Linked DNA regions of Homo sapiens. The protein of the gene in region 2 binds, or shares a complex with, the protein of the main gene of each other region. Links are inferred from orthologs where the notes say so. Each region holds a gene or a part of one and is shown on either strand. Other genes may lie near its edges. The genes, in order: CSK and PAG1.

Region 1 (7,872 bases), on a different chromosome or scaffold from region 2:
TTTCATTTTCTAAATTTCCTGTAGCGCTGTTTTGTTATTTTCTAAATCAAGAAAATGAGTACATTCATGGTTTCCCTATAATGAGCTCAGATTCACTTCCCTGGGACCCACCTGCTCCCTAGCTCTGGCCCACGTGTCTGGGACAATTTCTGCCATGGGATGCCTTTCTCATTTGGGACAGTCCCTCAGACATATGAGAATCTGTCCCTACTTTCTCTTTCCCAGACTCAGTCAACATCCCTGGCTCTTTGAAGATGACCTGTCAAGGTTTTAAAATCCTTCAAAAGATGGAGCCCAGAACCGCACCCAGGTGGGTCTGCCCCCTTTGGGGGGCAGCCATGTCACACTGTGGATCCTGGGTCTCAACCCCTACCTATACTTGTTTGGAGGAAGCTGCATTCTGTCCCCGAAATTTCCAACCCTTGCCGAGGGCCACTCTGTGTGGCTCAGCCTTTTGGGGTCTGGCCCCCCTGCGGTGGTGAATGGGAACATTTTCTGCTTTTTCCTTGCCCCTGACCCAATGCAGAGAGAAGAGCAGCTGCTTCTGAGAGGGTGGAGGGCACCAAGCTCACCAATGAAAAGCACATCCCTGCACACGTGCCAGCCAGAAGCCAGACTCCTTTCTTCAAAGGCCCTGGGACCCTGGATCACACCTTCACAGCTCACAGTTGGTAAAAAAATAAAATAAAATAAAATAAAAATTAAAAAGGCTGACTGGGGTGGGAGGGAGCTAACCATGTCAGGCTCCAGCCCCAGTCCCTCAGGCTGGAAAGGAAGTTAGGGCTGGGTGTGGGGCCATGTGAGGGGAGTCTCACAGGCCCAGGACATCTGGGTCCCCTCCACTGTGCATGTCAGGACAGCCAGAAAAAAAAGTGAAAAAACAAAAAAACCCTAAATCGTGAGCAGGGACCCAGCAGGACAAAACTGCCAGCAGCTCCAAGGGAGCCCAGACACTGCTCAGCACCCACCAGGGCAATGCCTGCTCTCCTGGGCCAGAGGATCCTGCCAGGCCTCAACCTCACCCCTGCTGTCCTTGCCCTGTTCCTGCTGTGGCCACAACCAAGAAAGACACTGGAACCGCCAGGGTACTAGGAGCTTGAAACAGGCCCCCTGGGTGTCCCCACTCTCACAATGCTCCCATGTCCCCAGTCTGTAGCCTGCTGCCAGTGGAGACAGAGCTTCCACGGTTCCCATGTGACCCCATTTATATCCTGAACTTGGCTGCTCCTGTGCCAGCTGGGCCATAGGTGTGGCGAGTGCTGGGTCAGGACTGACCACCAGGTTGTTTCAACTCAGAGCCGGGGCCAGGACCGGACCTTCCTGCCACACCACACAGATGGCCATACACCACACATTCCCCACATCTCCTGCTAGCTGACCCAGCCACAGCTGGAGCCGGAAGCCCTTTCACTCCCTCCAGCCCTCTGCAGGGAAGCACGTGCTCAACCAACAAGGTCCCTCTGGGGCCGGGCTGGGGGCCTGTGTCCCCAGTGGGTGAAGGTGCCTGCCTGGTTTCCTTCCACCCACAGCCATCCAGCCCTGTATAGCTGGGGATGAAAGGACAGCCAGCCTAACTCCACTAGAGGCCTGGGGTAGCAACTTCTCCCTTTGAGCCTCGGTTCCCGGGTGTACAAAATGGGCGGGGAAGTGAACTGGTAGTTAAGCTCCAAAAAATCTGCTGGCTGGACACACCCCTTCCTGACACCTGGTCTGGGCCACAAAGAGCCTAGGAGAATGGGCTGCCCAGGGTGCCAGAAGGTGGGGGCATGGTGCTAATGCTCCGTTACCTCCCCCCGGGCAGAAGGCCTGCCCAGTTTCCCACCCAAAGATCCCTTGGCTTAGGCCTGGTCTTCTGAGAGGCCAAGGGTGACAGGCTCAGTCCTAGGACCTGGGCTTCTAACTGCTCACCCGAGGTGGCTGGGCCCTGGGCTTGCTTGCAGCCCGCAGGGTCATGGTGGGGTAATGAGGGAGGGGTCAGAACCAAGCAAGCCAGGGCACCTGCGGGGAGGCCCTGTACAGGGAAGGGCAGGGGAGTCCAGCACTCTCTCTAGGGACCTGGCCCATACGGATCCTCTTCCTCCAGACTCCAGCCACCTCCTACTCTGAGCTCCACAGAGGGGGGGACTCGGGATGACCCGAGAAGACGAGTCCGTGGAGCTGCAGGGCAGTACCTCCCTCATGCACTCCCTTCCAATTTGGGTTCTGACAGTGGCTCCTGGGAGAATTCGAACCCGTGCAAGGGAGTAAAGGAGAGAAGGGAGAAGTGGGAGAAGAGGGGAATGGGAGTGGACGCGACAGTGGCAGCAACAGAGACTAGACGCGCGACCTCCACCCTCTTCCCTCCAGGGGACACTCCGGGACGGCCAGGCACTCACCTCTCTTGGGGCACTGCGGTCCGGGCCACCTCGCCGCGGGCGGCATCAGCGGCCTGCGGGACGGTCCATGCGGTCAGGGGGGAGGGGAGGGGCGCAGGGGTCCCCAGGGGGTGCGGTACAAAGAGGTATGGGTGCAAGGAGAGGGGAGGAGGGACCGCCAGGCAGAGGCAGGGGGACGGACGCACGGCCCGGGTCGCGGAGGGAAGAAAGGCGGGGGAAGGGGGCGGGAGGGAGTCGGGGGGAGGAAACAATGTAGCCGGCGCGGCCCCGGCAGAGTTCCGCTTCCGAGCGCCGCCACTGAGGTTCGATTTTGGAACGTCGCGCTGGCTGCCGGGGGCCGCCCCGGACGCTCGATCGGGGCCGCGGGGCTCCTCGCGCTCCACGCCCCGCGGGCTCCGGCGGCCAGAGGCTGGCTGGGGCGGGAGGGACGGCGGGCCGGGTTACGGCCCCGACGGCGGCGCAGCCGGGCGGTCGCCCGGCTCGGACCCCACCCCGGCAGAAGCCCCCGGGCAAGGCGCGGGTGGGGCAGGAGCGGGAGGGCGGCAGCGGGCTCGGCGGCGGCGGCGGCCAACCTCGGCTCGCCCAGGGCTCCGCTGGGAGGAAGCTCGCAGGCCTGGCGAGAGGAAGCGCGGCCCGGATCCTCCGCCCGCGGCAGCGCGCCTGCGCGAGGGGGCCTGCCCGGCGCGCGGCGGGGCGTGGGCCGGCGGGGCGGCGCCCCCTGCCGGGCGCCGGGGGCACTGCGGGGGGTGTGTCCGCGCCCACGCCCTGCCCCCACTTGCCGCCTGGCTGCGTTGAAGGCTCCGAGGGTCTCTCCTCAGCCGGCCTGGGAGCAACCTCCCAGCCTTCTCTGGACGCAGCTTTCCCGCTGCAGAAGCGCTGGGGGCCGGGCCTGGGCCCCTCTCCTCAGGTCTGTTTGTGGAGAGTGGGCCTGATTCGCAGCAGAAAGCCTTCATTCATTCATTCACCAACATTTCCTGGCGCTGACATCGTGGCGGAGCCTGCTCTGGAGTCTATTGGCAAGACCATTTCACTACCGTCAAGGCGTTCTCGGTCGGGTGGGGGTAGGCTGACAGGCCGACAGACAACGGCAAGGAAATAATTGATCAAAGTGGAGAGGTGGTGGACACGGTTCCCAGGAGGCAGAAAGAAAACTAGGGCTAACGGGGAGACCTCACACCTCACAGAGCCGGGACCAGGCAGAGGGAACAGCATGCACAAGGGCGGGGAGTGCGGAGGGAGCTTGGTGGCTTCTGGGATCTAAATATAGCTCAGGCGGCTGCCGCTTGCAGTGTGGGTGGGGGAGAGTGGTGGGAGATGGGTTCCTGCAAACAACAGGGGCAAAAGAGATCCAAAGAGCCTCATGGGACTTTCTTGGAGTTTATGTTCAGCCTGGAGGCAATAAAGAAGTTGTCAGCAGCTCTGTGACCTTGGGCAAGTTACTTAACCTCTCTGTGCTTTAGTTTCCCCATTTGGTAAAATAGGTGATATATAATGGCACCGACTTCTTAAGTTTTTGTGGGGAGGGGAGGAAATGAGTTAATACGTTTAAAGTGCTTAGTATGCAGTAGCTGGCACGTGAGGAGCCCTCCGTTAAGCAAGGGCTGTTACATCACTGTTAACGAAAAGCAGGGAGATGACCTGCTCTGAGCCACAGGAGAGGACAGCGTGCTCAGGCATGACAGGGGTGGGAGAGTGCAGGGTGGCGGGGGAACAGAATGGGGATGCAGTGATGAGGGTGAGACCGGGGAACAGAATGGGGATACAGTGATGAGGGCGAGACCAGAGACTCCAGCGTAGGGAGGAGGTAAAGGTGGGGGACTTTCTAGGGACTAGACCCTGAAGCAAGGGTCAGGCTTGGGTGGACAGAGGGAAGAGGCACTCTTGGGGTTGGGGGGGAGGAAGTGGGGCATGCTGACAAAGTCTTGGAACACAAAATAAGCATGAAGAGGCCCGAGGGAGCGAGAAGAGGGCAAACAGCCCTGTGGGAGACGGAGCTGGGAGACAGTGTGGCTGCAGATTGTTTTAAAGAGCCTCGGATGCCAGGAGGAGTTGCCCCCAAAACCACAGGTCGGCCCTCTGACCCAGGGCACCCTTAGGCCGGTTTCCCAGCTGGAGCCAGCCCTTTGGAGAGGGATGTCCTTTGAGGAGACAGCCAGTAAGTTTCAGAGATAGGTGTGGTGTAACAGAAAAAAGATGAATTTGGGGTTCAAGTCTCCAAGTTAAATTTCAACCCGTCCACTTACTAGCTGTGTGACTTAGGGCTAGTTACCTAAGGTCTCTGAGCTGTTTCCTCTTTTGTAAGATCAGGCTCAAAATATACTTCTCTCATGATAGATAGTGCAGATTCAGCAAGATAACGGCCTGGGGGTGAGGGAGTGGAAAGGGTGCTCAGCAGAGCTGGTTTCCCTTTCTTTCCTCTGAGGTCAAGATGGAATGATAATATGGGGCCGGATGGGGGGCCGCCTCTCAGCCTACAAGAAAGCACTTCAGCAGCTCTGCAAAGCCTTCTGGGAGGGAGAAATTGACATCTCCCCTCCCCTGGCTGAATCAGCTAGCAGAATGGGAAAGAAAAGACTGGGGATTTGGGGAAAATACTCTAATCCCTGTTCCAGTTTTGTCACCAACCTTTCTTTATCCCCAAATGCACTTGACTTTTTCCCCTGGGTGTGCTGTGGCCCAGCTGTGAACTTTGGAGTCAAATAGACCAGCATTTGAATCCTGGCTCCACCTCTTCTCAGCAAAGTGAAATAAATTTTTTAATCTTCCTGTACTCCAGGCACTGGGGATAAAACCATAAACAAATCGATAAAGGGCCCCACTCCCACAGACCTGTCCTCTGGTGGAATTATTGGGCTGGGCGCCGTGGCTCACACCTATAATCCCAGCACTTTGGGAGGCCGAAGCAGGCAGATCACAAGGTCAGGAGATCGAGACCATCCTGGCTAACATGGTGAAACCCTGTCTCTACTAAAAATACAAAAAATTAGCTGGGCGTGGTGGCGGGTGCCTGTAGTCCCAGCTACTGGGGAGGCTGAAGCAGAAGAATGGTGTGAACCCAGGAGGCGGAGCTTGCAGTGAGCCGAGATCACGCCACGGCACTCCAGCTTGGGCAATAGAGCGAGACTCTGTCTCAAAAAAACAAAACAAAACAAAACAAAACAAAAAAACAAATGCTTATTGAGCACCTACTAAGTGCTAGGTGGGAAGTGCTAATTAGGGAAAGGGAATCTGGTCGGTGGGAGCAAGGGAAAGCAAAAAGAGAAATTAGATAAGCTGTGAGTCTGCCTTTCTTCATGTCTAGGACATATAGCTCTCCTGTGCAAATAATTCACAATCTTCCTGTGCCCGACTATCACCAGACTCCTGCAAGTTAGCTCACTGTACCCTTGGCAAGTTAGCTCACTGTACCCTTGGCGTTTGATACTGCACAAAAACCTCCTCAACAGATAGCATAACACTAATTCTATAAAATCTCCAACAACCTTTTGTTTCCTGGCAGTCAGCTTCTCTTCTGCCTTCTTGCAATGTATTTTCCTACTTTTTCTAATAAATCTGCCTTTATCTACAACTGTCTTAGTAAGTTTTTGTTTTGTTTTGTTTTGTTTTTTGTTTGTTTGTTTTGAGACGGAGTCTTGTTCTGTTGCCCAGGCTGGAGTGCAGTGGCATGATCTCGGCTCACCACAACCTCCCGCTCTGGCATTCAACCATTCTTCTGTCTCAGCCTCCCACGTAGCTGGTACTATAGGTGTGTGCCACCATGTTCAGCTAATTTTTGTGTTTTTAGTAGCGATGGTTTTCACCATGTTGGCCAGGCTGGGCTCAAACTCCTGACCTCAAATAATCCACCCACCTTGGCCTCCCAAAGTGCTGGGATTACGGGCGATAGCCACCACGCCCCAGGCCAGTGTTGGAGGAGTGGGGGAGGGTATTGCAGGTGGGGAGGAAGATAGTGAAAGACCCTGAGGCACAGAAAGCCTCAGTGGCTCAAGGGACAGCCAGAAGGCCAAGGTGATGAGACCGGCAAGCAGGGGAGAGTGGTGTTTGAGGAAGGGACAGATTCTATAGGGTGTTGTGGGCCAGAGATTTTTATTACAGGAGTTTAGGTTTTATCATATGAGCAATGGGGAGCCATTGAAAGATGTTTATAAGCAGGGTAGTGATATGATAAAGAGTGAAGGTCGGCTGGGCCCTGTGGCTCTCGCCTGTGATCCCAGCACTTTGGGAAGCTGAGGCAAGAGGATCACTTGAGGCCAGGAGTTTGAGACCAGCCTGGGCAACAGAGCAAGACCCTGTCTCTACAAAAAAAAAATTTCTAATTAGCTAGGCATGGTGGTGTGTGCTGGTAGCTAGCAATCTTCCCATCTCAGCCAGGCTGAGGTGGGAGGATCACTTAGGGTGGGAAGATGGAGGCTGCAGTGAGCCACTGAACTTCAGCCTGTGCAACAGAGTGAGACCCTGACTCCAGAAAAAAAAAAAAAAAAAGTTAAGGTCAAAGGTCAAAGCCCTAGTGAGGAGGCTGTTGCATGGCCTGGACCAGGGCTGACGGGTCTAGCCCTGGTGGAAGCAGCGGGATAGGGAAGTGAATGGACAAAGGCAAGTCCCAGGGCAGCTCTCCGTGAGGGGTTGTTTGTGGGGAGTGAGGCCACAGGAGAAATCAGGCATGACTCCTCAGTCCTCAGGTGTGGCTGGAGCACCTGGGGAGATGGTGCGAGATGGGAGAACCTGGGGAGAGTGCCAGGCTGGGGGAACACTCAGGAGTTTGGTTTTGGACAAAATGAGCTTGGGATGCCTGTGAAATGTGGAGTCAAGGCAGTGTTGGGAACTGAACACTAGCTCTCTGAGGCTGGGCCACTCTTGCCTGGCTGTTGGGCCTGCCCCAGGGGAATGGAGAAGAGAGGAGAGGTTGGAGACCCACCCCTGGATGTGGGGAACCAGAGAGAAGCTTCTGGCTGCATTTTGATGATACAAGTGCCAAATGGGATAGCTCCATGCAAAGTTGGGTTGGCCTCCAGCAGTCCAGAGCTTATGCACATGTATGTGCATTTATACCCTTATGGGGTCCCCTGGGAAGGGAAGGGCCGCTCCTCTCTCCACCCAGCCTCCTCCCCTCCCCCAGCCTCTTTGCACAGAGATGACAGTTTAGAGAAGCTGGTGTGAAATAGCTTGAAACTCAGACCGTCTGGGCAGTCCCCCAGGGCAGAAAACAGGAAGCCAAGATTAAAGGCAGATTTCCAGCAAAGTCCCCTTCTATTTCCTGCAGAGCAGGTGCTCAGGCTGAGTTGGCTGCTAGCAAGAGGGGCCGGGCAGCTTCCCTTGCTGACAGCACCTCCAGGCCCCCCGCAGTGGCTGGCTTTCCAGCTTTGGGAGCTGTCCTTTGGCCCTGTCATCACCATCCCCACCAGGCCCTTAAGGAATGCGCCTCCTCCGGAAAGAGGCTGTCGCGGGAGTCATCACTAGGAAAGAGGCTTAACGGTGGCACAGACAGGAAGCAGAACTT
Region 2 (7,940 bases):
ATATCCAGGGATGACGCTGTTTGTGGATTGATTACTGCTGCCGTGGTGGTTTCCTTGACTGTGTAGATTGCTGCAGCTACACGTGCAGGCAGGAAACCAAATGGAGACCACCACCCTCCAGTGTAAACTCTAACATCACACCAATTTTTCTTTTTTGACTCTCTGAATGCATGAATAGAAAAATAATAAAGCAACAGAATCCACTTCAAATTGAAAGACCTGGCACCTCTACCACACATTAGGAGGTATGGAAGCATGGGCAAGTTATTTAACAATAATTATGATCATTTCTGTTGTGGGTGCTGTTAAGCACTTTGCATACTTTAATCCTTAAGCTTAGATTTCTTCATGTATAAATTGAGGATAATAATGCAACTACTTCATTTGCAAGTTGAGGCAGCAGGGTCAAAAAGAACACAGTTTCAACACAGACAGACGTGGGTTAAATGCCAGCTCCAATTTCTACTATTTGATCTCACTGAGCTCCCATTTTCTCATCTCTAAAGTAGAGATGAAGCCACTTACCTCAAAGGACTGTGGTGGGGAATTGAGCAAGACAGTGTTAAATACCAGTTGGTGTCTGTATCGCTAGACAGTGCACAATAAATGTTTATACCTTCTCTCCTATTATACACATGAACTGCTTCTGTTAATATTCATCAGCAGCAATTCAATGTCCATAGCAGCAATTCAATGTCCATAGAGTCCAAAGATGCATTTCCTTTCATAACAATGAAAATTTTTCCCAGAACAAGCTTAATATGCCAGATACTGGCCCAACAGCTCTATGTCTATGAACTCATTTAATTCTCACTACTGTTCAGTGGGGTAGGTACTACTACTGTCATCCCCATTGTACAGATGAAGACACTGAGGCACAGACTTTGGGTTACTTGCCTAGATTCAAACAGATGGTACCAGAGCTGGCAGCCTGGCTCCATAGCCTGTCCTCCTAACCAGGCTGCAATAGGGCTTAATGGGTCAATCTGTTTGAGATTCCATGCTTGGATGTAATCTCTTCTAGAGATAAGCACTGGATGCTCTCACAAACCGCAATGTGTTGATGTGACTAACTTTTCAACTTCTGAAATAACATTTTGTGTATTTTCTTAGTATTCCTAAAAAAAAACCCTTTACACTTTAAATAAGGTGCCTATAACTAGTTCATCTTGTTCTGCATGCTGAAATACCATAAATAAATGCACTTCTCTCTTCAAAGATTATGTAAATAAATCTTACATTAAAACATACCCCTGAGCTTTGGTTTAAACAATAATTTCAAGTCCAAATTAAACATTTATGTATGTGTATATATATTTAGCAGGAAAGTCTTAATATGACCTATTTTGTTAAACTAATGACATCTATACCCAATACTCCAAATATTCCTCTTATTTATAATATTCGCTGTGTAACAGTCACACAGCAGTACTGCATGGTACTTCAAAGTACTATTCCTTTTACAAGTTTAACCAACTCAGGTATTAAACATCAATGATGATAATCCATAGCTCTGCTTAAAAGGAATCTCTCGGGAACAGCTGAGAAAGAAAGGTTAAAGATTTCTATCCTTCAAAGTAGGGCACTGCAGCTACCTATAAATCATGCTCTTTGTTTATTAAGATAATTAGGCCCATCAGTACACTTAACTTTTAGACTCAACAATTGTCTGGCATGAACAATTTCCACTTTTTCTAAAACAAAGGGGATGTGTTCAAAAAGCGGTCCTCTGCATGCTCTCTGCACAATGCATGCTATTTTAAAACATGATTTATGGGTCTAATTCCTGGAGCTGCCTTGAAAAATATAGTGGGTTGTTCCTCCCATGCTCCCTATTAGGAGAAGACACTCCAATTTGAAGAGTGCACTCTGTTTCAGACTTCAGGCCGCTATATCATGTCAGCATTTTCAGTAAATACTGTTCAATTGGACTTTAAACAAATGGAATGGAGGGCCACAGCTGCAGCCACTGCAGAGATAAAGTTATCCAGCCGGGAGGCTTACATAAGAGGTGCAGGACAATCAGGGTGAAATCCAAGTGTCATTATCTGAATCCTATTTCTTGAGACTTGCCTACATTCTTAAAGTGTATGAATTCACACGCCCAGAGCTCGTTTTATTTGCCTTAGGGCATAAAACACCGGGTCGACATATAAGTTGTTTTTTCCCTAAAGGACTAGGCTCCAATTATGAAAAGGTTGGCAACTTCTGCCTAGGGGAAGAGTAAAGCGGGATGCGCGGGAAGCCTGCAGGCCTGAAAGAAATGGCTCGCCCAAAGATCCATCGCAGTGCTGGCCACACTCCCCAGAGGAATTAGGATGGAGGTGACAAGACCCTGCCCAGCCCCTTCACCCCAACGTAAACACAGAGTCAAGGAGCTTGGAATGAATAATTAGCACGCAGCAGTCGAAATGCCCTAGGAGTACCTGTCCTCTCCCAGCATATTTCCAACTGGCACATTCGTGAGATGCTGAGGTCAGCCAGCCCTGGACTCCAGACCTTCCAGCTGCCTTGTCCCCTTCTTGGCACCCCGCACTCCCTCCTCGAGCTGGAACTCTGTTAACAAGAGGTGCCACCCTCGGCTTCCCACAAGAAGATAAAAACGAACCTCTCCTTCCCACGGCTCCCTCCAACTTCAGAAACTACAGTCAACTTACTGGGACTCAGGAGGCAGGGAGTCTTCCTGGCGGACGGCGCTCGGAGGCAGCCTCTGCAAACTCCGGCGCGCAGCGCCGCCGCCCCGGCACAGCCCGGCAGCAGCGGCAAGTGCAGGACCAGGCGCCGCCGCTCTGCACCAGTCGCCTTGGCTCAGCTGTGCCGGGCGCCGGGCATTCGCCAGGGCACACGACTCAGCGAGGCGGCGGCTGGGACTGAGGCTACTGCACCCGGCCGCGCGGACCCGAGCGCTGCAGCTGCCTCCAGCCCCGGAGCGCGGCGCTCCGAGCCCCTGGTGGGTGTCTCTGGCTCCAAGGGAATCACGGCTCAATTAGGGACCTGCCAGGAGAAAAACCGATGCGCTGCCGCAGGCAGAGCCGCCAGCCCGCCCCCAGTCGGCTGGTCACATCGCGGGCGCGCAGACGGACAAGCGAGCGGGAGGGTACCGCAGCCAGCACTCGCCGCCGCGCCGCGGAGAATGACAGGCGCCGAGGCGGAGCAGCCGCGCGGGGAGCGGGGCGCGAGTGCGCATGATCCTGGCCGCAGCGGCACGTCACGGGGGAGGAGGGGCGGGCCGCGGGGCGGGAGGGGGCGAGCCGGGCGGGGCCGGGCTGGGGGTGCACACGGGTGAGGACCGGCGCGGGGCCTGGCTTGCTCGCGGGAGGATGCAGGAAGTCTTCCCTGCCCTGATTTTATGAACCCAAAGCTCTGTGGTTGAACTTGTCCCAGGAGCCCATTGTCCTTTAAACAGCACCGTTTAAGCGGTCCTTAAGGTCCCTGGGGAGCCCACAAAAGCCAATTTAATTCAGGTTACAGCTTAACCGTAAAGGGTTGCCATTTGGGGGACAGTGATCTTCTATTGTGGCTGTGCATTAAAATAACTTGGGGAGCTTGTAAGAACCCTTTGCCCCGGACGCATCCCAGAACAAGTACAGGACAATGTCTGGGTGGGGCCCACCCAGGTATCAGTAGGTATCTAAAGATACCAAGGTACAGCAGTGCTTCTCAAACCCTCAGTGTGTGACAGAATCTCCTGCGGATTGTGATGAGATGCAAGATTCAGATTCAGTAGGCCTGGGATAATGAGGGAGACATCCTTTCTAACAAGCTCTCGGAGGATGCCAATACTGGAGGTCCAGACCCCCATCCTTGCTACTTAACGTGTGATCTAGAGCCTGGAGCAGAGCTTCTGAAACAGTTGGCCTGTCTGACAGTCACCCGAGGGGCTTATAAAAAACGCAGAACAAATGCCCAGGCCGTACCCCCAGTGATAGTGGTTCTGGCTCAGCCCCTGGCAAAGGTGGGCTTCTAGAATTCCATTTGGCATCAACACTCTAAATAAATCTGATAGGGGTTTTGTTTGGGCCAAACTTCAAGTTTACACTAGCAACCTGGAATTGGGAATAAACTTTTGCACTTACAAGGAGACAAACCAAGTCTAGAACTCAGGACATCTGACTTTGAGTCAGGGATTCTAAACCAACGGGTGCTTTATCTGACTAGTCCCAATTTTCTAAAATTATGATGCATTACTTAGCAAGAAAAAACATATAAATGGCATTAAATATACACACACACACTCTATTGAACACTCGTTACACATATCATTAATGGGAGCTTAAAGGTGGCTGGGGAAGAAGGCTCATCAGGAGAGGGTAAGGAAGACAGTGATGGAGTAAGGGATGTTGTTAGTGTGTCGCAGAGGGAAGGGTATGTGGGAGGAAACAGTTTAGACTCAGCCTACAGCTTGGAAAAGCCCATTGGGGAAGCGGACCCAGGAACCAGACTTGGCCTCTTGCTTCAGAGCATGGTATGAAACTCAGGTGTTTAAGAACTTATGGAGTATAACATTTCACATACGTTACCTCACTGAAATTTCACAGTGGTCTCTTAAGTTGAATAATAATATAAAAAAGTATCCCCATTTTATATATTAAAGAAGACATCCTGGACATGAGTTGACTAATGGTGGAACTTGAATAAAAGTAGGGATCTCCGTGTTGGACTTGGCTTCTACAACTCTGGAGAAGAGGACAATTTAGACCTTATAAAGCAAATGGTTTCTGTGTTTACTAGTCACATCTTTTACAGGCTGTGCCTAAATTTGGAGTTAGGAAGGCTTTCATTCTTGTGGGGAGGAAATACATTTTGTGTCTTCCAGTTTTGCTACACTTGTTAGGATACACTTAGAACAAAATGTTCTAAGAGCAACCCGGTCCTAGGACATTGCAGTTCCACAGTGCAGGCTTCATTGAGGAGTTTGAAGGGCAATATTCACGTTATCTGGTGACAAGTGTAATTACCATCCTCATTTTACCCAGGCTCAGAAGCTAAGTGATTTAGACAAATTCACGAATGCAGGCAGGAGCCAATCTCTAGCCTCTGTCCTTTTCCTCTGCTCTCTTTTCACCAAGTAACATGCTGAGGATTGTTTTTCATTTCCAAATTTTTCATATCAGGATTTGCCATCAGTAAATTGGAACTCAAATGTATTTCAAAGCCACTCCTAGATAGAGAACCAAAAGTGTCAGGATCAATTCTTGTGCTTGTGGTAGATGCTATGGGCTATACTCTCGGTCTGAGTAATGTTTTGGAAGCAAGTATGTGATAGTTATATACAGTCTTCTAATCCAGAGGTTTGACTGGGAATGCTACACTGCCAACTGTGGTCTACCTGCCTTTATCTTTACTTCTTATCTAACTCTTCCATTACAGCCATTCTTCGGTGTGATTATGAAATTAATTCCTAAGAAAAAAGAATTCTTTGAAGGAGCTGGTACATCACAGGTTGTAAAACTTACTTCAGTTTTTAATAAGAAATATATATATATTTTAAATATGAAGGTAGCAGAATAGTCATGTTGGGACCTTTAGAAGAACCCAAAGTTGTCATTGTTTTCTTAGGTGCCCGACATTTCAATCAAAATATTTACATAATTCATTTGTATATTGATTTCAAGAGATCCAAGATTTAATTAAATAAAAAGTTACTATTAATTGGTGTGTCCTACTGCTATTGAATTTTGAACCATTGTTATTGGCATTAAATACATGAAATATATAATATTGTCTTGATACTATATTGACTGTGCTTTAATATTGACTGTGTCTTGATATTGACTGTGTCTGTATTTAGAATTTATTTCACATCAGCTGCTATTGATTGTCTGGCAGAAATCGCAGCTACATCTTTTTCTCTGAGGTCTGTATTCCTTATGGGTCAGCAAGGCCTACTCTTTGGCTGAGAATTCCTTCCTTCAATGCCTCTAAAAGTCCTAGTAGTGAGATATTCAATTATATAGACACTAATGACTCCACTGAAACTATTCTTCCCTCATGCAGAAACTGTACCTAGGATAGATTTTTATTAAAGTCTTTCTGCTAAAAATCACAGGCTTACCAACTGAGCTGGAAAGCTTAGGCTCAAAAATTCTCCACCTTTATTAATTACATTTCTTCATCCATTTCACTCAAAGGGATTCTTTGACATGAAAATCTTCACTTACTTCATAGACACAGTCCAGATAAGAGAACTGTGGGGAGTCCAAGGTGACTAGCAAGAGTGAGACAGTTGGGAGGAAGGAATTAGATGCCACTTGGTGAAAAATAAGCTTGCCATAAAAATTAATACAAGTTGTGCTTGATTTGTGGACATGGCTTATTACAAAGTTTGCCTTGTTTGAACACATGCAGCAGCTGATAACTTCACTGGAAACCATCACTGAATCCCTGGTGTAGATGGGATTGGGGGAGATTAGGGTCCTGTCTTCTTTCCCGAGAAACTTTAGAAAAGTATTAGAAAGCCCAATTCTTGCCCTAATGCAGGAAACTTACGACGTGCCTGCATTGTAAATGTTCATGTCTAAGTTATCTCACTTACAATTTAGAGCAGTCAATATAATAAATAATCAGGATTTTCAGGCTAGCTCCATAATGTTTTTTAAGTCTCTATTAACAACAAAAAAAGCTAATAGAGTGTTAATTATAACCCTGAACCTGAGAAGAAATAGGTGATGGGTAGGGATGTTGGGCTAAGGCAGGAATGGGGTCGGGGGCTGGGACAGGATGGAATTTAGGGATGGAAGAAGGAAGGCAGGAAGTGGCCTTTGGTTGCTGAGGAGCAAAGGCTGGTGGAGACTGAGTATCAGCAGCTTCTGAGATAAGACTGGGCAATGGCCTGTGAGCAAGATTAGAGAGCAAGCAATCAAGACTCTGCTGGCAACTCACAGCTTACCTGAACTTAAAGTGCTGAGGATTCCACGTGTGACTTTGTCTATAGGAAAGAGGGATCAGAGGTTAAGAAATAGATTATAAATTCCTTAAAACCCATGATAGATGCTTTAAAGAACTACTACAAAATATACCCTCAATTTCAATCTCTAAGAGTTACTTTTTCCTCCCTCCCAACCAAATTGCCCACTAATAAAAGGAGAGAGCAGCTGGGGGAGAGGCCATGCTGCACAGTGCGAACCTCACAGGCTGTCTGGCCCCCACTCCCAGCATCTCCATCCATCAGCTGTAATCACGTGACTGCCATCTTTGATTACCTAATACACAGTAACAAGAGCTTCAAGCACATATTAGGTTCCGAATATGCTAGCTATTAGTGGTGGGCTTTACAAAATCTCTCCTAGAGTTAAAATCTGAAACTAGACATCTCTTAGTGTCTATTTTATCATTTTAATGTAAACCATGATGAACTGTAGTTTTTAAGAGAGTACTTTCCTTCTCCATCAGAAGACTTAAGAGTGACTTTAGGGCTCCTCTGAGGACAGGAGAATCGTGTAGAAAAGGCTTTCAAGGGAGATCAGGGCAAAACCTACTAATGTAGCTCTGCAGCCTCACACTATACTGTAGAGGAAAAGTCAAGGCTTAAGGACTTGACATTTTCATATCTTTCTACCGGGAGAAAGAAATTATGGTGGCAAGAGACAGTAGCTATAAAAGTGAAAATAGAGTGCTTTAAAGAAATGCCTTTATATTACAGATTTGAGAATGGACATTTCCATTGTCCTTTGTCATCCTGACCTTACACATTCCTTAAAGTTCTATCCTGACATCAACACTCAAGATGTGTGCCTGTAAAACTGATGTAGATACTCAGAATGTTGGTAGAGATTCCTTAAGCTCACTTTTAATTCTTCTGCCTTTATCACTTCAATATAATACAATTTTTATAAACATATTTTAAGCAGGCATCAGAGAAAACTGCGTGTTTCCTTAGTAGCCAACCAGTTGCCTGCCAGCAAGCAAAACTTCAGCATTGAGAAAGGAAGATTTTGAAA

The links.
Region 1: the proteins of PAG1 (region 2) and CSK are in contact, whole or in part, in an NMR structure (PDB 2RSY), measured with the Rattus norvegicus proteins. The link is inferred for Homo sapiens from one-to-one orthologs. Residues at the interface, in NP_071589.1 of Rattus norvegicus: Phe291, Ser292, Leu294, Tyr296, Lys297, Ser298, Arg299, Glu300, Glu301, Leu305, Ile310, Met313, Tyr314, Ser315, Ser316, Val317, Asn318, Lys319; in NP_001025210.1 of Rattus norvegicus: Thr88, Arg89, Glu93, Arg107, Ser109, Thr110, Asn111, Tyr112, Thr117, Cys122, Glu123, Lys125, Val126, Glu127, His128, Tyr129, Arg130, Ile140, Asp141, Tyr156, Asp161, Gly162.

What each region holds. Positions count from the first base shown.
Region 1 is NC_000015.10:74,777,224-74,785,095, reverse strand, and holds the start of CSK (tyrosine-protein kinase CSK), read right to left. Parts: upstream 3,017-7,872; 5' UTR 2,376-3,016; intron 662-2,375; exon of another isoform or gene 573-661; intron 1-572. UniProt on the Homo sapiens protein: Non-receptor tyrosine-protein kinase that plays an important role in the regulation of cell growth, differentiation, migration and immune response.
Region 2 is NC_000008.11:81,108,934-81,116,873, forward strand, and holds the start of PAG1 (phosphoprotein associated with glycosphingolipid-enriched microdomains 1), read right to left. Parts: upstream 3,136-7,940; 5' UTR 2,658-3,135; exon of another isoform or gene 1-2,657. UniProt on the Homo sapiens protein: Negatively regulates TCR (T-cell antigen receptor)-mediated signaling in T-cells and FCER1 (high affinity immunoglobulin epsilon receptor)-mediated signaling in mast cells.